Linked DNA regions of Homo sapiens: region 1 is linked to region 2. The links come from fine-mapping of genetic effects on gene expression. Tissue or cell type: whole blood. Region 2 holds a variant in brackets; the other region holds the start of a gene. All regions are shown on one strand. Distances are between the middles of the regions.

Region 1 (5,150 bases), 310 kb before region 2:
TTCCAAAGACAAACCTCACATTCTGCAGCACCCCCTGTGGGCAGAGGACACACATTACTTGTAGAATGCAGAGCGGGGTGGGGATGGGGTTGGGGGAGACTGTCTGTATGCTAGGAAAAGCATACAATAGATGTTCTAAAAGCTTCAAAGAGCTGTCTTAAGATCACTATGTCAAAATAACACAGCAACATTAATCGCCAAACAACTTCAAAATCTTAATTGTGACTTCTGCCAAGTCTTGAGTATTTTACAAAGAATTCAGTTATCAGCCTACTTGGGTACACAGGAAATGGAATCTGATCCTAAGCCTAGAGGATATAATGACACTTTCCAGTGTCAAAGAGTTAAATGTGGGAGTTCAAAGCCACCGTTGCAAAGATCTAGAAGTTAAGGCACAGATGAAGCTGTAACAGCAACAACTAACTGCTATTTTAACCTTTTATGTGAGACCAGCTGCATCCCCATGAGGAATCCAATAGCAAAGTGGTACTGATTCTGCCCATAGAAAGTATCCATTTCAAACAAGATTAAAATTGGGGGAATGCATTTGAAATAAGCTCTTTTCTTAAGAGCCTAAGGAGTATCTAAGGCTTGAACAGGCTGACTGCTAAAGGAAAACCATTTCTTGTTTCCTTGAGTAGTTTTCAAAGTGTGCTTCCCAGACCACCGGCATCAGCATCACCTGGTACTTGTTAGAGTTGCAGTTTTACAGAATCCCAGACTCTGGGGCTGGGGTGCAGCAGGGTGAGCTTTCACAAGCCCTCCAGGTGATGCTCATGCTGCCTAAAATCTGAGAACTGCTGCGTTAGTTTACAGACAGGATTTCCTGTAGCCCTCCTGGCAGGTCACCTGTCTAGCAGATGATCCCACGGAGCAGGGCTCAGAGAAGAAGCCTCACCTGGAAATTGTCATTGACGCCCCCCTTTGCGATGCGGAGTCTGGCGATGCTGGCCAGGTCTCTGGTGAAGACGCTTTGGATGGGGACGTCCAACTCAGCATTCTCCATCTTTTCACAGTCGATGTACAGCTGGGCCCTGTCTTCCTGCACAAACAGGGTGATGCTCTTCCACTGGCCGGTTGCCAGGAGAGCTTCTTCCACAGACACCACGTGCTGCTTTCCTTGGACGGTCAGGCTGAGGTCCAGGGTGCCCGCCTTGCCATTGGACACCACGCTGAAGACCTGGCCAGAGTGGTCTTTCCGCTCCAGGGCCAGCAGCGTGCCCCGGGTCTTCTTCATCTGCCTCAGGGATGCCAGAAGGAGGAAACCCTTTTCTGCCCGCACAGCATCCACCAGGTCTTGGAACTTGTCATCAGGCACAGGGGGGATCAGGTTGGCATCCTCGATGCGGAAAGCTGGGCTGGAAGGGTCGGGGCCCTTCACCAGTCGGCGCCCAGACCCCTTGCGGGCGGCCCCGGTGAGTTCAAAGATGTCAAACACGCTGTTGTCTCCGCCAGACTCTGTTAGACAGGAGAGAACACAAAGTGAGCTTTCTAGGCTGGGACCAGCAGTAGGGGGCTGAGTCCTTAGGGGTGGAGACAAAGGGTTGGGGTGAAAACTCCTGGCAACCACTGAAAGAGGTGAATAAATACCAGGATCAGAGTGAAGCTGCGTCCTGATGTCCAGTCAGGCTCAAGAGGGAGAGGACAGCACGTGAGGGGGCACACCTGGGATAGCCAGCACCTCTTCCTTGTCCCTCCTTCCCCTAAAGGTGCCACACAAACTCACCTGGAATGCGGTTGGTGCCACACACATGCATCAGGAACAGGACGCCTAGTCCCCAGGCCAGCCCCATGGTGGAGCTGTTGGTGCCCAGCAGGGATCCTGTAGCAGGAAGCACAAGAGCCGAGGGTCAGAGATCAGCTAGGCAGGGAGGGACGGTGCGCAGAAACGGGGCTGGGCATGGGGACAGGGCCGGGACCATCCCTCTTTGACCCCGCGTTTGCTGAAATGAAGGACAACAGGATTACTTTCCAGAGAGCATGAGAGAGAGAGAGAGAGAGAGAGAGAGAGGTGGAGGAAAGAGATGCTGGTTTTAAAGTGTGGGGGGCGCAAGACCAACAATTTGGGGGCTTTTGGGAAGTCGAAGGTGAGCAAGATCAGGAACTGTAGTTTGGGGTTGCAGGGAGGGCAGGGGAAGTACAGACTCTTCCCTGGAGTGCTGATACAAAGGCTTAAGGAGGACTTCAGAGAGTAAGGAAATCTTGGGGTGTCCTGATGAGTTGGTTTGTGAACCTCAAGGCTGGAGAGGATGGCTCTGGAGCCTTGCCCTGAAGAGTCCTCCAGCGGCTGAGAGGAGCGGGCTGGGGTAGGCGAGCGGGGAGAGTGTAGGTTCCGGGGTCCACCAGAGGGACTGAAGCCTCAGCGCTCCAGGTGGATGTCCCGGGCAGCTTTGGTCCTCGGCGGCCGCCGGGGGCGACTTACCTGTGTGTACCGGAGCGCGGCGGCCGGGAGCGGTGGCGAGGGCGGCGAGGGCTGGAGGGGCGCGGGGAATGCCTGTGCGTCCGGAGTAGAGGTTGCTCCTGGAGAGCGACAGGAGCCCTGAACTCGCAGGCCAGCTCGGGCGCAGCGGCTGGCAAGGCGGAGGAGCCGCGCGCTTTTAAAGGGGCGCTCGCATTCCTGGGGATTCCTCCGGCCAATGGGCGGCGGCCGGGCAGGAAGCGGGAGGTGGGGGCCAGTCTGGGCTCCTCTCTCCGCCCCCCGCTGCCTGGCGCGCAACTTTCCAGCTAGAAAGTGAAGGGGGCGGGGGTCGGGGCTTGGGAGCACTAGAACTTCTCAGAAAAGTCGGTGCCCGCCCACGCAGCCTTGGCGCGCACGGGCTCGGCGCTCGTACTCTTGCGCCACGCGGGCTCGGGGTGATCAGCAAGCATCCCGAAAAGGGACGGGGCTGGGGAGACCACCTAGGAGGGCCCGCGGGGTGGCGCAGGGGCTTTCGGGCGAGCTGATCTCCCGGAATGCCTGGTTGATGGCGAGAGGTGGATACTAGAGACTGGGCCCGTTTTGTAAAAAGAAAAATGGGCCGACGGGGCGCAGGGGACACCAAGAGAGCCATTCGTTAAAGTACCTGCCCCTCGGGCCCTCGCTGACTCTCCTCCACCGTCCCCGTGGGGTGAGGACACGCGTCCCCCGAGCGCCTGTCCTGAGCTGGCCCCACGCCCGCCCCGGAGGGAGGTGAGCGCGGCGTCGGCGGGGCCGGCAGGTTGGTGCGCCGCGTTCGCCTTCGCTGCCTTCGGGCCCTTTCCTGCCGCGGCTGCCAGGGGGCCCACAGAGACGCCTCTCCCGCTGCCGCGGCGCTCCCTCGGCCGGCCGCTTGGGGGCGGTGTGCGTATTCTCATCAAGGGGCCCGGGGAGGACAGCTGCTTTCTACTCGAATTTTAAGGAAACTTACTCGTATCCAGTTTCCACAAGCCAAATTGAAATTGTGTCTTGAAAAACAGTTTTTGTGCCCACTCGTGCTTCTTAACGTGACTCCTGTTTGGAGAATTTGCAGAACCATCTGGCTCCAGAGTCTTCAGCTATTTACAGAGCAGACCCATAGAGTAATAAATTACTCTCTGCCTATTATTGTATTTCCCTTTTTCCTCCCTAAACGTTCTTTTCATTTTTCGGCTCCTGAACCCGAGGTGTGGGTTACATTTCTGTGGGTGCACACATTGCCATGAGTGCCGCTGCCTAGTGCTTCTGTCATTGAAGTCTGGTCTCCAAGCCACTGTCCCAAGCCAGCATGACTCTAGCTTCCTGGAATTCCATTCATCTCTTCGGGATGGGACGTCAGCCGCCTCGCTCCCTCTGCTGTGATCCAGCGCTATCGGGCTCGCTCCGAGGCCAGGGCATAGGTAGAAGCTTGACCAAATAAGGATCTCAGCACGGGCAGGGGGAAACCCCTGGGGTTCACCTCCCATCTTAGCACTTAAACCTGGCAGGACTCCCGACTGCTGCAAACAGCCAAGTGTTTACATTCATCAAACAGCAGTTTCGCTTTTCTTGCGTGGGAGTGTTGTATGACAAGATGGTGTGTGTGTGTGTGTGTGTGTGTGTGTATTACGGAAAGAGTGTTTTCTAGTTACTCAATATGTATATAAAATGCCTCTAAAAGATGACCGGTATGTTCCTAAGGCACATGTTTGTTGGATTTCAGATGTTGGGAGGCAGAAAGAAAAGTTTCTACTGGTTGATGAATAAAATCAGATTCTTGTCCCGCAAATCATAGGTAATGATTCATCCAAGCAGATCTGAAGATTCTGGAATCGGCACCCATCCATCTCCCTCCCCTTCCTTCTCCTTCTACAGCATTCATCTTGCTCTTCGAAAAGTAATTGGGTTTTTTTTTTCTTCTTTCCACTTGCTCCATGATACTGGACAGTCAGAAATAGTTCTTGGAGGGATGGGCCGCTCATGGCTCTGGGCTCCTCTGGCCCACTGGATCATTGTGTACAAATCAGATGGGGGCTTGAGGGCTGCAAGAGGCCCACAAAAGCAGAATGCATCTTGTATGAAAAGATTATCTCCCCTAGGCTTAGCTGTGCAGACAGAGTAGAAACCAGCACTCACTGCCCCTTCAGGATTCATGCTGCCATGGCTGAGGGATTGTAGGAATGCCTCTGCAGATTTCTTGGAACTTGGCTTCTTTCAACAAAACAAGGACAACAGTTTCCAAACTTCATCATGCTTTACCAATAAGAAGGTGACCTATACGGTGGCAGGAAAGAGCTTTCTTATTAGAGAAAGCTGACAGGTATAGGAGCTGCTTATCTCAAACACAAAGCCCTTCCTCTTATCATGATACTTCAGTTGTTCTGGGTGGAAAGGAAAGGTCATAGAAGAGGGAGTGTCTGCGCCCCTTAACAGGAATTCACCCACATTCTTGCCAGCCAACATGTGCTGCAAATATTCCCCAAACCTCATATACCTCTGTGCAGCTTTGAGAGAAGCAGGGATGGGAAAAGGGAAAAGAAAACCTATCCCCTTTAATGTGAGGGCAATAGTCCATTTTGAGTGTGTCTCTACAACCTGGAAGCACTGTGATTTTAAGGCAATCAATTAACATGGGCCGAAGTGATGGACCTTTCAGGGAGCTGGTCCAGTTCTCTTTTTTGCCAAGTTGTCATCCTTGAGGATTAGTTACTGAAAATTGTAAGGCATATGGCATTTC
Region 2 (5,150 bases):
CATAGTAGTAGACTGCAATAGCTTGGACCAAACCTGAGGTTCAGAGCTCATGCTGGGAAAGTGGACCCACTATAGTGACTTGTACACATTTGTCCAGGGAGATAACGACTGTGCCTAGAGGACTGGCAAGGCTTTGGTCTTTCACTAGAATATGTCCTCGGACCCACTGTAAACCCATTCCAGCATGTTTTGCTAAGGGCAGGATGTCCTGGAGCATGTACAGCAACAGACAGAATGACAGAACAGGACATAGGGAGCTATCTATTACCACTCATACTAACAGCATCTTGCTTGCCATTTGGCTTGACTTAATTTCTTTTGAGCTCTGTGCCTATCTGTGGGTTGGAGACAATTTGTGTTGTTGCTCCTTTGTGGAGCTTCTCCTCCCCCCGAGGAAGAAAGCATCATTTATATCCAGGACAGCTCTCCAGATTATTCTGGAGACAGCTCAAAAAACCTGTCTCCTCAGGGAGAATGCCTGACAAGGTCCTCTTCAGGGAAGGGCTTCTCAAATTTTACCATGCATAGGACACACCTGGAGGTCTTGTTAAAAAGGTCTTAACTCATTAGGACTGAGATGTCACCCAACATCCTGCCTTTCTAATAGGCCCTCTGGTGATGCTGATGGTCCAAGGATGACACTTAGTAGTGAGGCTTGCGGCACTGTACAGATGCTTATGGCAACAGGGTGGCTCAGGAAGGTTGAGCGTGGGAAGGAGCAGGATAGAGCAGAAATACTTTTCATATGAGACTATAGCCGCCCAGGCTCCCACATAGACTTTACAATGAGTCATGGGCACTATCCACCCAGACTCACACTTCCCATTAGAAAGTGCTCCCCGAGGATGTGCCTACGCTGAAGTCTCAAGAAGATCATGCCTTTCCCATAAGAAGCCCGGGGAAGAAGCTTATGACTTTCCAGCAGGGAAAGGCAGCGGCAAGCTGAATGCTCAGGTGGTTTTGCCTTTTCTCCCCATCAATGGCAAGTTGGAAGGTGGAGCTGGTGGCTTGTTCCACTCTGTTCAGCTCAGCTGGTGTTTATTGCCTATCTGCTCTGGGCCCAACACTGCTAAGTATATGGATCTCTGGTGAAGGGTGAAAAGTGGTCTCTGCTGTCCAGGGGCTTACTGTATGATTGGGACAAATAAACTGAACACTTACAAGCAATGAAAGAAAAACATGAGAGAGTAGGGATATAATTATGTGCTAAATTGAATATAATCAAGTGCCAAACCCATGACAGAAGCAGTAAGTGCTGTGAAAAGTCAGGGAGGGTTTGAATGTTGGCTTAGCTCCCTGAATCCAGAGTTACAGTTTCTAAATTGAGGGTTCTATTGTTTGACTTGCATTGGGTTTTAAAGATCTTGTGGATAGAGAATTGGGAGCTACTGGGTGGGGTGGGGAGAAAAAGCAGAGTCCAGCACAGAAACACAAGCCACTTGTTTTAGGTACTAAGAGCCCCACAGTGAATGCAAATCATACCCCCACCCACCACCCCAGACCTCCCCATCTCTCCAGTGAATGAAACATTTCTTTAAATGAAACCACCACTAGATAATGATATCAATGCTACACTGTGCTGGGTTTGACTGGACACTCTCATAGCTTGTAGGGGATTCAGCCTAAAGTGAGTTCTTTCCATAGAAGGTGAATAATAATGAGGCTTAAAGGGAAAGGCCATCTCAGGATCTCAGGGCAGATACTTTTTAGTTTGTGGATGAGACAGACAAAAGAAGAAGGGGCTGGGAAGGGCCCTCGAAGGCAGAGAGGGAATTCTTATCTTTCATTTTGTCCATGAAAGCCCTGTGGAAGAACAATGCCATTCAGCACTTATACAGCACTGTAAACTCTTTCGTAAACATCAGGCGGCAAAGTCACATGCTCCTCCTGGACAATGAATGTACATTGGTCTCCTCCTGTTTCTGAGAATGATGATGGGCACACTAGCAGGAAACACTGGTGCATCCCTTGCCCTGCCCAACTGGGAGTACAGGCTAATCTCAGCATGGCCAAATCTATCAGGCAGCTCAGCTGTCTCATGTGTGAACCAAGCACCAGTCCTCCACAGCCCCCAGCGGAAGAAACATATATGAAATTTTCTAATGTTTCCCATGGGAAATCCCTCTCCCAACTAGGATTGAAGGAAAGGGTGGCACCTCACCTCCTTCCTGCTGGTGGGATCAGGATACTCACTCTCAGCTCCCTTCAAAGAGGTCCTCATATACCCTCTTCTTTTGCACCGTGACTGAATATCCTTTTCTGGACTAGTGGCCCTGAAATCATGGGACCCCTTGTTGAACAGCTCCTTTGTGGAGTATGTTTCATGCTCATGTTGGTATCTGAGACTGATTGTGGGGTTGCCTCAGGCTAGACAGAGGCAGGAGGAGTGCTCCTGAAGCATTGGCTCACAC[C/T]AGCAGCTGTTTTCCATAGATGGAAAAACGCTGATAGGAAACTGCCAAAATCCACCTGCAGGCTGTGCTTGAAAGAAATCCTTTGCATTTGCTGATCTCACTTTTTCTATCAGTAGCATGTGGAGCCCCAGCAGTCCCCAGGTGGGATTCCTGGGCCAATTTTAGCCCACACAGGCATTTTCTTTAGCTGGCCTTGTGGCTTGTAAAAATCTGAATTACTTCTTCACATTTTTAAATGACTGTAGTTCCCTGTAAAAATCTGGGTTTCTGGTTTCTCTTGAAAAACTGTGAGGGATCTGGCAACCCAGGCCATGCTCCTGCTTGGGCCAGTTGATCTGAAACAGAGGTACCCCTGCACGCTGCTTGTTCCTGCACCCATGTGCTCTCCCAGCCCAGCCTCTGTGAGCATTTGGCTCTTTGACCTTGAAGAGTCACAAGAACAGCCTGCATTTACTTCATCTTGATTTGATGGATGATGTTCCTCAGGTAGGCAAGGAGTCAAGGTAGGGTGGGGCAGGGGTAATTTGGGAAAAGTAGAATCCTGATTTTAGGATAGCTTAGAAATGATCTAAAGGCAGATAAATAATGTATGTGCTTCTCAGATCATCTGTGGAGAAGGAGCAGTTTGTTAGTTGCTTTCCAATCCATCCCAGATCTGTGCTTTTGTAAAATGCAATATGCACTAATTCCTACAAAAAAGGGATAGAAGACATATGACATAGAAGGCAGATTTTATTATTAGATTTTATAGACACAAAATTCATTTTAACAAACATGATCAGAATAAGCATAGGAAAAAGAAAATATTTAAAAACATGGTGCATTTGATGTATACAAATATAATGTAACTATAGAGGATCACTTTCGTACTAATAGCCCTTTTTCTCTCTGCAATTATAAACTAAGGAAACTATGAGTAAAATAGGAATATATCATGTTAAATACCCATAGACATACTTTTAATGAACACAATGTATATCAATATTTAAGGTTCTTTTTTTAAAATTATACTTTAAGTTCTAGGGTACATGTGCACAATGTGCAGGTTTGTTACCTATGTATACATGTGCCATGTTGGTGTGCTGTACCCATTAACTCGTCATTGGCATTAGGTATATCTCCTAATGCTATCCCTCCCCCTTCCCCTCACCCAGTGACAGGCCCCGGTGTGTCATGTTCCCCTTCCTGTGTCCAGGTGTTCTCGTTGTTCATTTCCCACCTATGAGTGAGAACATGCGGCGTTTGGTTTTTTGTCCTTGCGATAGTTTGCTGAGAATGATGGTTTCCAGCTTCATCCATGTCCCTACAAAGCACGTGAACTCATCATTTTTTATGACTGCATAGTATTCCATGGTGTATATGTGCCACATTTTCTTAATCCAGTCTATCACTGATGGACATTTGGGTTGGTTCCAAGTCTTTGCTATTGTGAATAGTGGCGCAATAAACATACGTGTGCATGTGTCTTTATAGCAGTATGATTTATAATCCTTTGGGTATATACCCAGTAATGGGATGGTTGGGTCAAATGGTATTTCTAGTTCTAGATCTTCGAGGAATCGCCACACTGTCTACCACAATGGTTGAACCAATGCAATGTATAAGCATGCTTCTCGCTTGTCGGTTGTTGTAGCATAGCTGGAGTGGCAATGACACCACTCATTTCCTGTTTCTGTTTCGTTCAGTAACATTTAGAGTAGCTTGAGTACAGTCTCACAGAGTTACCTTGATATGAAAGAGAATAAATACCAAAGTAACTTCAGTAAACTCAGGATATTCATTTTTAACTTTTTGTAGAAATGAAGCAAGTGATTCAGTATTTGCAAAACTCACCTTTGATCCTTCACCAGTAGCATATTTGAACAATTTATCCTTTAAAGTTAAAATTAACTTTACTTTTAATGAAAGAAAGGGATTTTGGATTTATGAATTTCCTATTTGTAAAATATTCTTATGATGAAAAGTTAAATTTAAAACTTTCTACAAAATTTCTAAGGTATAGGGCAATATCCTGGCAGATGTAAAATATTCTTATGATGGAAAGTTGCATTTAAAACTTTCTACAGAATTTCTAAGATATAGGGCAATATCCTGGCAGATGTAAAATATTCTTATAATGGAAAGTTAAATTTAAAACTGTTTACAAAATTTCTAAGGTATAGGGAAATATCCTGGCAGGTATATAATTTCAAGATCATCACCTACTTCATTATTATTTATTATTAACTTACGGGACTTTCAGCACTCTTTAGAAACTCTGTTTGTCCAGGCTTCTAGCTTTTTGCACTTTAATCTTATCTGCCATTGAAAACATGTCACATTCTTTATTTGCATGGAAGTATTAAGATCTTTAAAAAAGATCAACGTTACCAAAGAAATAAGCATGACAGACTGTCTAATTCATATCTTTGGAATGTTGGGGCTTGTTTCTTATCTTGTCTGGAACACAATAGGGTTGTTGAATAGTTCATATATTACTGATAAAACCTTTCTCCTTGATAACTCATATCCCAGTAGTTGTGTATAAGCAGCTTCCATATCATTACAAATAAAAAGAGTAATATCAAATTTAGTGCATTAGCTTGTAGGTAATTTACAATTGCACTAAATACACCTTTTAGTCCTGCTAACATTTTTGTTTTGTAACAAGACTTTCTTGATAAGGAAGCAATTCATTGATTTATATTGTGGTGTAGCAATTCCAGAATGCTTTTCTGCTATTGTAGCTATGCCATCTGA

Evidence for each region. PIP is the estimated chance that this variant, and not a neighbour inherited with it, causes the effect.
Region 1: it holds the start of THBS1, and the variant in region 2 is fine-mapped to the expression of THBS1 in whole blood (INTERVAL, PIP above 0.99).

What each region holds. Positions count from the first base shown.
Region 1 is chr15:39,578,501-39,583,650 of GRCh38, reverse strand. THBS1 (thrombospondin 1) reads right to left here and starts at 2,572. Exons shown (of 22, transcript NM_003246.4): 1 at 2,423-2,572; 2 at 1,727-1,822; 3 at 899-1,458; 4 at 1-34. The coding sequence starts at 1,793. It overlaps LOC124903470, which reads right to left and starts at 3,844. Exons shown (of 1, transcript XM_047433405.1): 1 at 2,657-3,844. The coding sequence starts at 3,333. The coding sequence ends at 2,899. RefSeq lists silencers at 3,032-3,081, 3,092-3,321 and an enhancer at 2,744-3,481.
Region 2 is chr15:39,266,782-39,271,931 of GRCh38, reverse strand. The region is part of intron 1 of LOC105370777 (a long non-coding RNA gene); the gene reads left to right. Among named protein-coding and RNA genes, the nearest start is that of LINC02915, 19 kb to the right of the region's middle. The variant C/T (reference allele first, on the strand shown) is at 2,412.